Regions from separate parts of the Homo sapiens genome. Here region 1 is linked to region 2. The links come from fine-mapping of genetic effects on gene expression. A gene starts in region 2. The other region holds a variant in brackets. All regions are shown on one strand. Distances are from middle to middle.

Region 1 (5,384 bases), 360 kb after region 2:
GAATTACTGCTCTCTCCTGCTGACATTGAGAAACCTGCTAAGTCTGATGCTTTAAGTAGGAGGCCCTTTAAATTGGAATTCTTGTCAGGCATCTAAGTTCACTTTTCACTTTATAGTGGAAATCGGGCCCGGCCTGGTGGCTCCTGCCTGTAATCCCAGCACTTTGGGAGGCTGAGGCAAGAGGATCACTTGAGCTCAGAAATTCAAGGCTGCAGTGTTCTATAATTGCTCCACCGCACTCCAGGATGGATGACAAAGTGAGACCCTGTCTCTCTCTCTTTCTGTATATCTATCTATATCTATATCTATATCTATATCTATATCTATATCTATATCTATCTGTATATAGATAGATATACAGAGAGAGAGTAGAAATTGGGTCAAATGCCTGTAGTTATATTCTTTCTTAACATGGAGATAATGAGATTCTGTAAAATAGGATTTTAAATTATTTACTATGACCCAAGAAATATGCAGAAGTATGCTCAGGTAACTGACAGCTGAGCTCTTACCTCCTAATTTTTCAGGATAGATAGGCTAAGTTTTGAAAAGTCTGCCTTGACTGCAGCCTCATACTAAGGGATTCCTGTGCACTGGCTTCTCATGATGGAAGTAATGGTCAAGTTACACATTAGTGCCTCACTTCTATATCTTAAACAAATCAGACCTGTAGAAGGTGTCTGATGTATAGATTAGCAAATCCATAGCCTGATGAACGGCAGCCTGTGATAGCATGCAGCATGGAAACTCTGCCAAATAGGAACATCATGAAACTTCCTCAGAAATTTGAACTGGAATTAGAGGAAGGCAGTTGATGAGTTTGTAGGAGTAACAGAAGTGGGACAGCACAGTCTGAGAAGGTAATACACAGATAAAATATGGAAGAGTCCAGGAGACATCATTACCATGAGCATACACATTTCAAGATAGAGCAAAGTCACTAGAGTAGAGGCTGGCATGGATTGTGGAGACGGGGTGGCAGAAGCAAAGACAGAGACGAACTGAGTCAATGTTAATGGTGGAGTTCAAATTGCAGATTAATAACATTCTGCAACTGAGAGAATGTCTGAGGTGCTCTGGTGCTTCCCTTGAGGTCTGGTATGCAGCTGTTTCTCGGCTTCATGGCATACCCTTGCTTCCATGTGTAACTTCATGAGAGACTCCCACAGTGTGAACGAACCGGCAAGGGTCTCTGTTCTTTGCAGCCCAAAGAACCCGGCTAAACACACCAACCCATCTATGCTGCCTTTCTAGTTGGACGTGTTCTTTTGAGACTGCTTTCCTGGGGAGGTGATAAAGTAACTGAGGCAATGAAAAAACTAGTCTGAAGCAAAGAAAATCAGCATTGCCCCCTAAAGCCTAAGAGTAGCACACCAAGGCAAGTTATTTTCTGTATCCAGGAAAAGACAACTGAGGAGCAAGTGCTGAGTGCTTGGGGATTATGTCAGAAACTCCATTTCCAATGTCTTCACTGCCAAGGAATCCCCATTACCCCCACCCCACCCCACCCTCAACCAACCACTTCGGTTTTTCTCCAAGGACACTAAGTTTTGAAAAGATTTAATCTAGCAAACTGGCTCTGTTTATTTAGGTAATACATCATTTTCTCATTGGAATAGATATGAGTCTTACCCATAAGCTCAGGATGAATAGATAATACTTTTTTTACTCTCTAACTCTACCTAATTTTATTCTGAGTCCCCATTTCACTGAGGCAGGAGGAAATTTAACTCAGTCATTCTTGAGGCACTATGTCCCAAGTGAGATAGGGTGCAGGGAATGGTACTGGTCACTAGCCATCTCTGTCCCCATGAGTGGTTAATTCTGAGATCTCCATGGTTTCTTCAGGCTCATTCTCCACAGCTCCCACACCACAGTTGGGCATTGAAATCTTCACTGTGGCCAGAAACTCAGTGCTAGTGTCTCTTTCCCTGAGTGTGACTTGCAGCCATCCCCTGGAAGGTCTGGCCCTTGCCTAGGGGCACTGTCTTGGAAAAGGGCAGTGGTCCAAGATTTTTCTCTTCCTCTTCTGGGCCAGTTGGGAAATCTTTGCTTTTTAGTTTCAGAGCCCTCCCCTATAAAATTAATCTGGATGATAGGAAGTTGAACAGGAAGCCCAGTGCCTGTGGAAAGTTTATTATATAACTGTAACTTGAGCGCTTAGCCATACACACACAAATGTGCATGCATGTGTGTGCTCAGCTGAATTAAATTAGTCACTAAAATCGTGTTTTCTCTCTCAGAATTAAATAATAATTATGTTGATTGAATGCACACGGCGTATGAAGTGACCTGGTAAGTATAAATAAGCTAGTGGGATTTCTGGAGTTTATTTTGGTTGAGTCCCAAAGCAAAGAGGAGCCATGTGGATTAGAGACTCTCATAAAATAAATTCCGTGAAGCAAGTCAATGAACTGTCAGCTCAGTCTCATTAACTTTAGGGAGACCCCAGATGAGGCCTTATTTCTGAAATATCTGGTTGCAGGAAAAGTAAAAACCTGCAAATGTCTCCTTTATGTCTCTTGTTGCCACTAAATTGCTGCCCACTTAATTCTAACCCTGGGCCTCTGCAGAAGGAACTGAATGACCCTGGGCTTGGGGATACATTTTGTTTCTGGGCTTCTGACTTTCTCTTTTAAGTACCCTCCTGCCTATCTTCCAGACTGAAAAAGTCCTCTCTGTGTTTCTCTCAGTTGTCTGTACTAACAGCCTTGAAATTTTAGACCTGTCCCCAGTGATTGGAAAGTGCTGACTCATCAGTTCCAGGATTTTTTCTAAAATGTGTCTTCAGTGGCCTGTGTGGGGAGAGAGGGAAAGACAGAGCAGAAACACCTTTCCTGTGACCAGGGCTTTAAGCTTAGTGTATTCAGGACTTCAGTGCACATTATTTATCTGACCTCACACAGCATTGTGCAGAGTGGTGGTGGTGTCCTTTCACATATGTGATACATGGGGCTCAGCGAGGCAGAGGGGCTTGCTCGGGGTCATAGAGCAGAGCCAGAACTGGACCAGCTCTTCTGTTTCCCACCTCCGTGCTCTTTGCCTGATACCCAGTCCTTCTCA[A/G]TGGAACTAGGTAGTAGCCATACAAGGAGCTCTTAATGTGAGCATGCTTCTGGCCCAGTGGAAACAGCAAGAAAATATTAGACACATTTCTTGCCCTTGAGTCACATAGAGCTTAGTTGTCGCTTTTTTTTTAACTTTTATTTTAGGTTCAGGGGTACATGTGCAGGTTTGTTTTACAGGTAAGCTGCATGTCACGGAGGTTTGGTGGAAGGATTATTTCATCACTCAAATAATAAGCATAGTACCCAGTAAGAAGTTTTCAATCTTCTCACTTCTTACACCCTCCACTCTCACGTAGGCCCCAGTATCTGTTGTTCTCTTCTTTGTGTCCATGTATACTCAGTGTAGCTCCCACTTATAAGTGAGAAGATGTGGTACTTGGTTTTCTGTTCCTGCATGAATTCACTTAGGATAATGGCCTCTGGCTCCATCCATGTTGCTGCAAAGGACATGATCTCATTTTTTATGGCTACATAGTATTCCATGGTATTTATGTACCCCATTTTCTTCATCCAGTCTACCACTGATGGGCATTTAGGTTGATTCCATATCTTTGCTATTGTGAATAGTGCTGTGATGAACATATGCATGCATGTGTCTTTATGGTAGAACAATTTATATTCCTTTGGGTATATACCCAGTAATGGAATTGCTGGGTCAAATGGTAATTCTGTTTTAAGTTCTTTCAGAAATCACCACACTGCTTTCCACAATGGCTGAACTAATTTATATTTGTACCAGCAGTGTTTAAGTGTTCCCTTTTCTCCACAACCATACCAGCATCTGTTATTGTTTGGCTTTTTAATAACAGTCATTGTGACTGGTGTGAGATGGTGTCTCATTGTGGTTTTGATTTGCATTTTTCTGATGATTAGTGATGCTGAGCATTTTTTCATATGCCTGTTGGCCATGTATATGTCTTCTTTTCAAAAGTGTCTGTTCATGTCCTTTGCCCACTTTTTAATGGGGTTGTTTGTTTTTCATGTAAATTTGTTTAAGTTCTTTATACATTCTTGGATACTAGACCTTTGTTGGATACATGGCTTGAAAATATTTTCTCCCGTTCTGTAAGTTGTCTGTTTATTCTGTTGATAGCTTATTTTGCTGTGCAGAAACTCTCTAGTTTAATTAGGTCCCATTTGTTGATTTTTATTTTTATTGCAGTTGCTTTAGGTATCATTGTTACAAAATCTTTGCCAGGACCTATGTCCAGAATGATATTTCCTAGGTTATCTTCCAGGGTTCTTATAGTTTTATATTTTACATTTAAGTCTTTAAACCACCTTGAGTTTTTTTGTATATGGTATAAGGAAGGGGTCCAGTTTCAATCTTCTGCATATGGATAGCTGGTATTCCCAGCACCATTTATTGAAAAGGGAGTCCTTTCCCCATTTCTTGTTTGTGTCCAGTTTGTCGAAGATCTAATAATTGCAGGTGTGCAGCTTTATATCTGGGCTCTCTATTGTGTTCCATTCGTCTGTGTGTTTGTTTTCATACCAGTATCATGTTGTTTTGGTTACTGTAGCCCTGTAGTATAGTTGAAGTAGGGTGGCATGATGCCTCCAGCTTTGTTATAGCCTTGGCTATTTGGGATTTTCTTTTGGGTTCCATGTGATTTTTAAAATAGTTTTTTTCTAATTATGTGAGAAATGTCATTGGTAGCTTGATAGGAATAGCACTGAGTCTATAAATTGCTTTGAGCAGTATGGCCATTTCAATGATATTGATTCTTCTTATCCATGAGCATGGAATGTTTTTCTATTTGTTTGTATCATCTCTGTTTTTTTTTTCTCAGTGAAGTGATTTTTTTATTCCTTCTCATTTGCAGACATATATATATATATATATATGCAAACACAAACATATAAACAAATGTGTTACTTTTTTAAGGATGTTTCTTTTTTTAATTTTACTTTAAGTTTCGGGATACATGTGCAGAATGTGCAGGTTTGTTACATAGGTATACGTGTGCCATGGTGGTCTGCTGCACCTATTGACCCATCCTCTAAGTTCCCTCCCCTCGCCCTCTACCTGTAACAGGCCCTGGTATGTGTTGTACCCTACCTGTGTCCATGTGTTCTCATTGTTCAACTCCCACCTATGAGTTAGAACATGAGTTTGGTTTTCTATTCCTGTGTTAGTTTGCTGAGAATGATGGCTTCCAGCTTTATCCACGTCCCTGCAAAGGACATGATCTCATTCCTTTTTATGGCTATGTAGTATTCCATAGTATATATGTACCACATTTTCTTTGTCCAGTCTATCATTGATGAGCATTTGGGTTGGTTCCATATCTTTGCTATTGTAAATAGTGCTGCAGT
Region 2 (5,384 bases):
AAGACCACAGAAATTAAGCTGTTGATAATGAAACCCACTAGTTACAGACTTGAGAAAAATCAGTTTTCTTTCCTCTCCATCATAGTAGACAATATCTGTATCAACAACTTTCAAGAAAAAGCCTGAGTTACTTCTGACTTCAAATATACATGTTATCATCAAAACCTATTTTCCTCTATTATCACTTATTCCAAATCTGTAGCTGCCTTTTCATTCCTTCAGCTACATCCTTGTTCCTGGCCCTAGACTTTTCCCCCTAGACTACTGTACCTCATTCTCATGAGACGGCTTCCCCTGACTGTCTTTAATTCCACTGTCAATGTTAATGTTACCTTCTCTCTAACATTTTACCTATGCCACCTACCCATTCCACTTCAGCTTTTCAAGGCCTTTACATTGCATTTTTATTTAGCTCAGAAGCCTCATCATCAACTATATATTTATTTATAAAGTGGCTGCTGACTTTCAACTCCCCTTAAAATTGACAGTTTCTTCTTGACCTAGTAAATGTATTAAATTCTCCCTTCAGGTAGTCACATTCTCTCCTAATCCATCTGAATACGGAATTTCTTTTGCAGTTAACCCCAAACTCATAGGTAATGTATTTAGAAAAGTTTTGCACAATAATTACATACAATGTTTCTTCATTTGTTTGCGTATCAATGTTATCCATATTAGACTGTAGGGACACCAGATAAGGGCTGCATCTTTCAAAGCAGTCTGTACAACACCTATCTGCTATGTCACTTCACAAAGGTAAGTTGATTCGTTAAATGAAACTATTATTTAATGGAAAGCTTAAGTAGAAAATGTTCATTTTAAAAATGTTTCTACGGTTTAACTTTTAAACATCTATGGCCTTTTTTATTTCCACAGACAACTGACATATTTTGGTTTCTCACTACTCTATTATTGTCAAAGAATGGCTGGAATTTAAAGTGCAAGTTGAGGGTAGATAAAAGATATACACTTTGACATCCCACCATCAGATTATTCGAAAATTGGCAATGTCAGCTCCAGGAATTCTGAAATACAACTGAATCTTCACATACCCAAACAGTTTCAGGACCAAAAGAAGAGAACAGCGCACCTTCTGATTTGGGGGTTCCCTTTTCTGCAACTGGTTTAGACTAGTTTCTCTATCCAAGGGTCTTTTAATTAGGAAAATTCAATTAATCACCATCGATATACGGAAAGAATACCAGGGAAAGGCAATCCTTTACTTAAAAGAGAAAAAAGGAGGCTTTGGATATCACCTTTTCATAAAATTCAGCAGCTAAATTAAGCTTTGCACTCAATATCTGCCGGCAGTCTCAGACATTTTTTTTCTACCTAATAATAAAAGCAAGTCTTATTCAATTTAGTCCCTTCTCGAGCACCGTCTCGACCTGTCAGAATTTGACAGTTAAAGAAAAAATTAAAAAAAGAAGTAAGGGAAACACTAGGATTCCCGTCCACACTGCTTCTTTTTCCGAAATCACATCACTGAGTCTTGGATTTCCTTCACTCCAAACTAAGCCCTCAGATTCCAAATATAGTTCTTTAACCCCCGTCTCGCCACTCAATTACACATAAACCTTGCCAATTACAGAACCACAGCAGAAACCCCTACAAATCCGCTTGCTGTTCATCTTGGAAGTCATGCCCTGCAGCAACTGCCGATCGCCGAAGTGACGGATATTAACCAAATTCAGCGCAACGGAATCAGACATGCAGAACACACACGGCTTTCGCGAGGGAGGGAAACGCGACCCGGGAAAAGTGCGCTCCTCACCAGCCTCGGGACGCTCTACCGGGGTGGGGGTTCCCAGAAAGGAGGGGGAGAGGAGCCCGAGTAGGGGAATCCTGCCCTCTCAAGTAAAAAGCTGGATCCCCGGCAGCAGGCTGCAGCCCGTCCTCGCTAAGGAAACGACGAGGCAGACAGAGGGCCTTTTGCGCGGAAAGGCAGAAGGCAGACACTTTCCGAGGTCCGGACGCAAGCCGATCCCCCATCCCCCGAGGGAGGCGAAGGGTGCCCCATGGGTGGCTGAGGGGACGCCCGGCCCGCGAGGGACAACCCGAGGAGGAGCAGTTTCATCTGATTAACACCTGAGTCTCGTCCAGGCAAGCACAGATACTGGCGTGGGGCCGCCCAGGTGGGGGGAAGGGAAGGAGAGGAAGGGGGTGGAGATGGGATTCCCCCCTCTCTCTGAAGAGCACTAGCGGAGGATGCGCCCAGGCCAGCCGAGAGCGGCATGCTTCAGACTGCGGAGCCGGGATCCCGCCGCCTGCACCGACAGCGCGGAGCCCCGCAGCGCCCTCCGCACCGGCCCCTCGGTCCCCGGGGGCCCAGGACTTTGCTTCCGAAGGCGCTGGGGCCTAACATCCCACGGGGTCGACCCCGGCTCCTGGGGCCTGGGGGAGGGGACCCGCGGGAACACCCCCAATCTCCGGCGGTTCTCAGCGGTTGTAAAATGCACCCCCGCGGTTCCCTTCTTCAGCCTTCCCTCCTCCCGAGGCCGCAGAGAAGGGCCACCACAGGCGAAAAGCCTAAGGCAATGCAGGGACAGCAGCCTCATAGGTCCCAGACCTCCTCCCCCGGTTACCTGTAAGGACTCCGACACGGATTTGATGGTCGTGGTTAGTAAGGATCATTCCCTCGGTCGCCATGTTTCCCAGCGCAGTCACCGCACTGACAGGAGCCGGGAGAAACCGGAGCCCGGAGCGCGCGGGCCGGGAGCGCGCTCGCCGAGGAGAGCGCGACAGCTAGGGAGCCAGAGAAGCGCGAGGAGAGCGGGGAAGGAGGGGGAGGCCACAGAGTGCACGGTGGCCTGCGTGGGGGAGAGGCCGCGCCGGGAGTGCGCGGGTCCGCGGGAGGGGAAGGAGTCAGGGCGCGCGGCCCCAAGTCCGGCAAGAAGGAGGCAAGCTTGGGGGGCGCGGTGGCCGCACGGGGAGAGCGCGCGGAGGCGGCAGAACGAGGCCGGAGAGTGTCGGAACGCTCTGCGGAGCGCGAGACCCAAGGCAGCTAGATGGCAGGACTGAGAGGAAAGGATAGCACACGCTCTGGAGGTTGCGGGGGCGGACTCGGGGACAAGGGCGGAGCTACACCCCTAGGCGTGGAACTCGTGGAGAGTGAGGGGAGGAGTGAGAGCTCGGGTGCTGAGTATTGGGAGCGGGAAGGAGCCGGCCCAGCCTGAGTAGGACCGCGGATCGCTCCTGGGCGCGCGAGTAGCACCGGATTGGCTGAGTGAACGCGGAGCGTGTGCGCGCGAGGCACGAACGCAACCTCGGCCGGGCCCCAGACAGAAGCAATCCCCTGCCGAGCCTGACACCTCGTTGGTTGTCCGCGCCTTAGGCTGGCTCTCGCCGGCGGGCCGGCTTTCTACGCGGGGGCAGCGAGGCTGGCTCAGCACCCCGGGCCTCCTCTTGCAACCCTCGGGAATGGCCGGCCGCCCCACTGAAAGCGCTGGGGAACCGAGAGGTGTCTTAGAAAGCTGCATGAGTGGCAGAACGGTGGCTACTATGACAGAGAGGCCGCCGTGGGCGAAGAGGGAGGTATCCTGTCCTGCCTCGTGCTAGCCGCTGGCTTCCTCAGTGGGCTCTCCCTGAAGGAGGATTTCCGCTTCACCTATGCTTTAGGATTCCATCTCCAGTCAGTGCCTGCAAGACGATCCTCACGTGCGAAACTGAGGAGTCTGAGGCAGGGCAGCTGGAGTGGAGATACCTGGCTTCTCTTCCTCCTGCTGTCCCACGGTTTTGTGGCCTTAAGCCTCTTCGCCATGAGCGCTGCTTTTAGATGAAAAGCATCAATCTCCTTAGCGAACGAGAACGTGTTCCACCTGAACCACAGTCCATTGCCGCGGCGATTTTCATTTCAGTATTCGTGGGATGTGAGATTACCATGAAAGTAGCTTTTGTTGCCATTTATTTCCATGTGCCTTTCATGAAACGTGTTATTAATCACCTGTGGCTATTCTACGTTAGTTTCTTACTATCGTTCTGGACCTTTCAACTTCTGAATTTTAAAAAGTTATATGCGTGTGTGTGTGTGTACACACACTCATATGTATATGTTTTCTCTTCTTAGCTGTAGTAACCTGGAGGCATAAAAGTGAAAAGCAAAGTATTAAAAGATGTATATCAGTGTTTATACACAAATTTCAAAGTCACTTTGATAGGTTTTTTTTTGGTTTTGGTTTTGGTTTTTTTTGATCCGGAGTCTCGCTCTGTCGCCAGGCTCCAGTGCAGTGGCGCGATCTCGGCTCACTTGCAACCTCTGCCTCCCAGGTTCAAGCGATTCTCCTGCGTCAGCCTCCCGAGTAGCTGGAACTACAGGCGCGTGCCACGACACCCAGCTAATTTTTGTATTATTAGTAGAGACGGGGTTTCACCATGTTGGCCAGGATAGTCTCGATCAAGATCTTGACCTCGTGACCCGCCCGCCTTGGCCTCCCAAAGTGCTGGGATTACAGGTGTGAGCCACCGTGCCTGGCCGATTATGAGTTTTTTATTGTTCCGTTGGAACATGAAATTACCCATCCTCTGAAGATTCACGTGCTTATGTATTTCATTTTAAATAATGGGGCCTAAAAGTAGATGATGGATGGAATTGAAGTGGGTAAAATAAATTAATGGCTTTTTTGCTTTTGTTTTTGTTTTTAGTATGTGTATTGCTGGTATTTTTGACAGTAATTAAAAATTTAAGCCAGGTCATGAACTCATTCCCTATCATTGTCACCTTAGATCCTGGTGGCCAACGGGTTGTTAACTAGTTTGAAATGAGAGATAAAGATAAGAAAGTATGTCCAAGAGAATGATTTCCGTTATCTCAAACTAAACATGAAGAGCAAATAGTTGGTTATATTGTTATCTTCCTAACCTATCTCTATTCTCTGCAACACACTCTAAATGATTAGAAAATATCTTGAGCTTATCGTCTGTCTTACATCTATCTTAGACGTAAGGTCTAAACCTGCCCACTAACAGGTTGTGACCCTAAACAAATTTGGGCCTTTTCCTTCATCCTTTAAATAAGATGGTAGACTAAATAAGTACCTTTTAAGTATAGTGGTAGACTAAATAAGCACTCCTTTAATTAGAATATTCTGTAATTATTCATGGAAGAAAACTGGCACTTTATTTCACAAATCAATAATAAGAGGACAAGAGACTAACTTTCTGCATTCATAAAAGGGGTGATGGTTAAATTCATTAAAATTTAAGTGGGAAGGGTGGATATGAATTAAATTTTCTAAAGCAGCAGTCCCCAACATTTTTGGCACCAGGGATCTGTTTTGTGGAAGACAATTTTTCCATGGATGGAGATGGGGAGGGTTGATGGTTTCGGGATGAAGCTGTTCTAGAAAACTGCAGATCATAAGGTATTAGATTCTGATAAGAAGCCA

Which allele goes with the higher level. Alleles are on the strand shown, and positions count from the first base shown. SD is a standard deviation of normalised expression in the study named.
In carriers of allele G in region 1, the expression in cerebellar hemisphere of the gene that starts at base 3,030 in region 2 tends to be higher than with A alone (large effect, 1.0 SD a copy in GTEx).

What was found.
Region 1: its variant is fine-mapped to the expression of GPHN in cerebellar hemisphere (GTEx, PIP 0.93).

The regions. Positions count from the first base shown.
Region 1 is chr14:66,149,842-66,155,225 of GRCh38, reverse strand. No RefSeq gene overlaps it. Among named protein-coding and RNA genes, the nearest start is that of LINC02290, 41 kb to the right of the region's middle. RefSeq lists a silencer at 2,688-2,888. The variant A/G (reference allele first, on the strand shown) is at 3,064.
Region 2 is chr14:66,505,793-66,511,176 of GRCh38, reverse strand. It overlaps GPHN (gephyrin), which reads right to left and starts at 3,030. Exons shown (of 23, transcript NM_020806.5): 1 at 2,586-3,030. The coding sequence starts at 2,649. RefSeq lists enhancers at 1,746-1,795, 2,046-2,205 and silencers at 2,296-2,445, 2,796-2,985.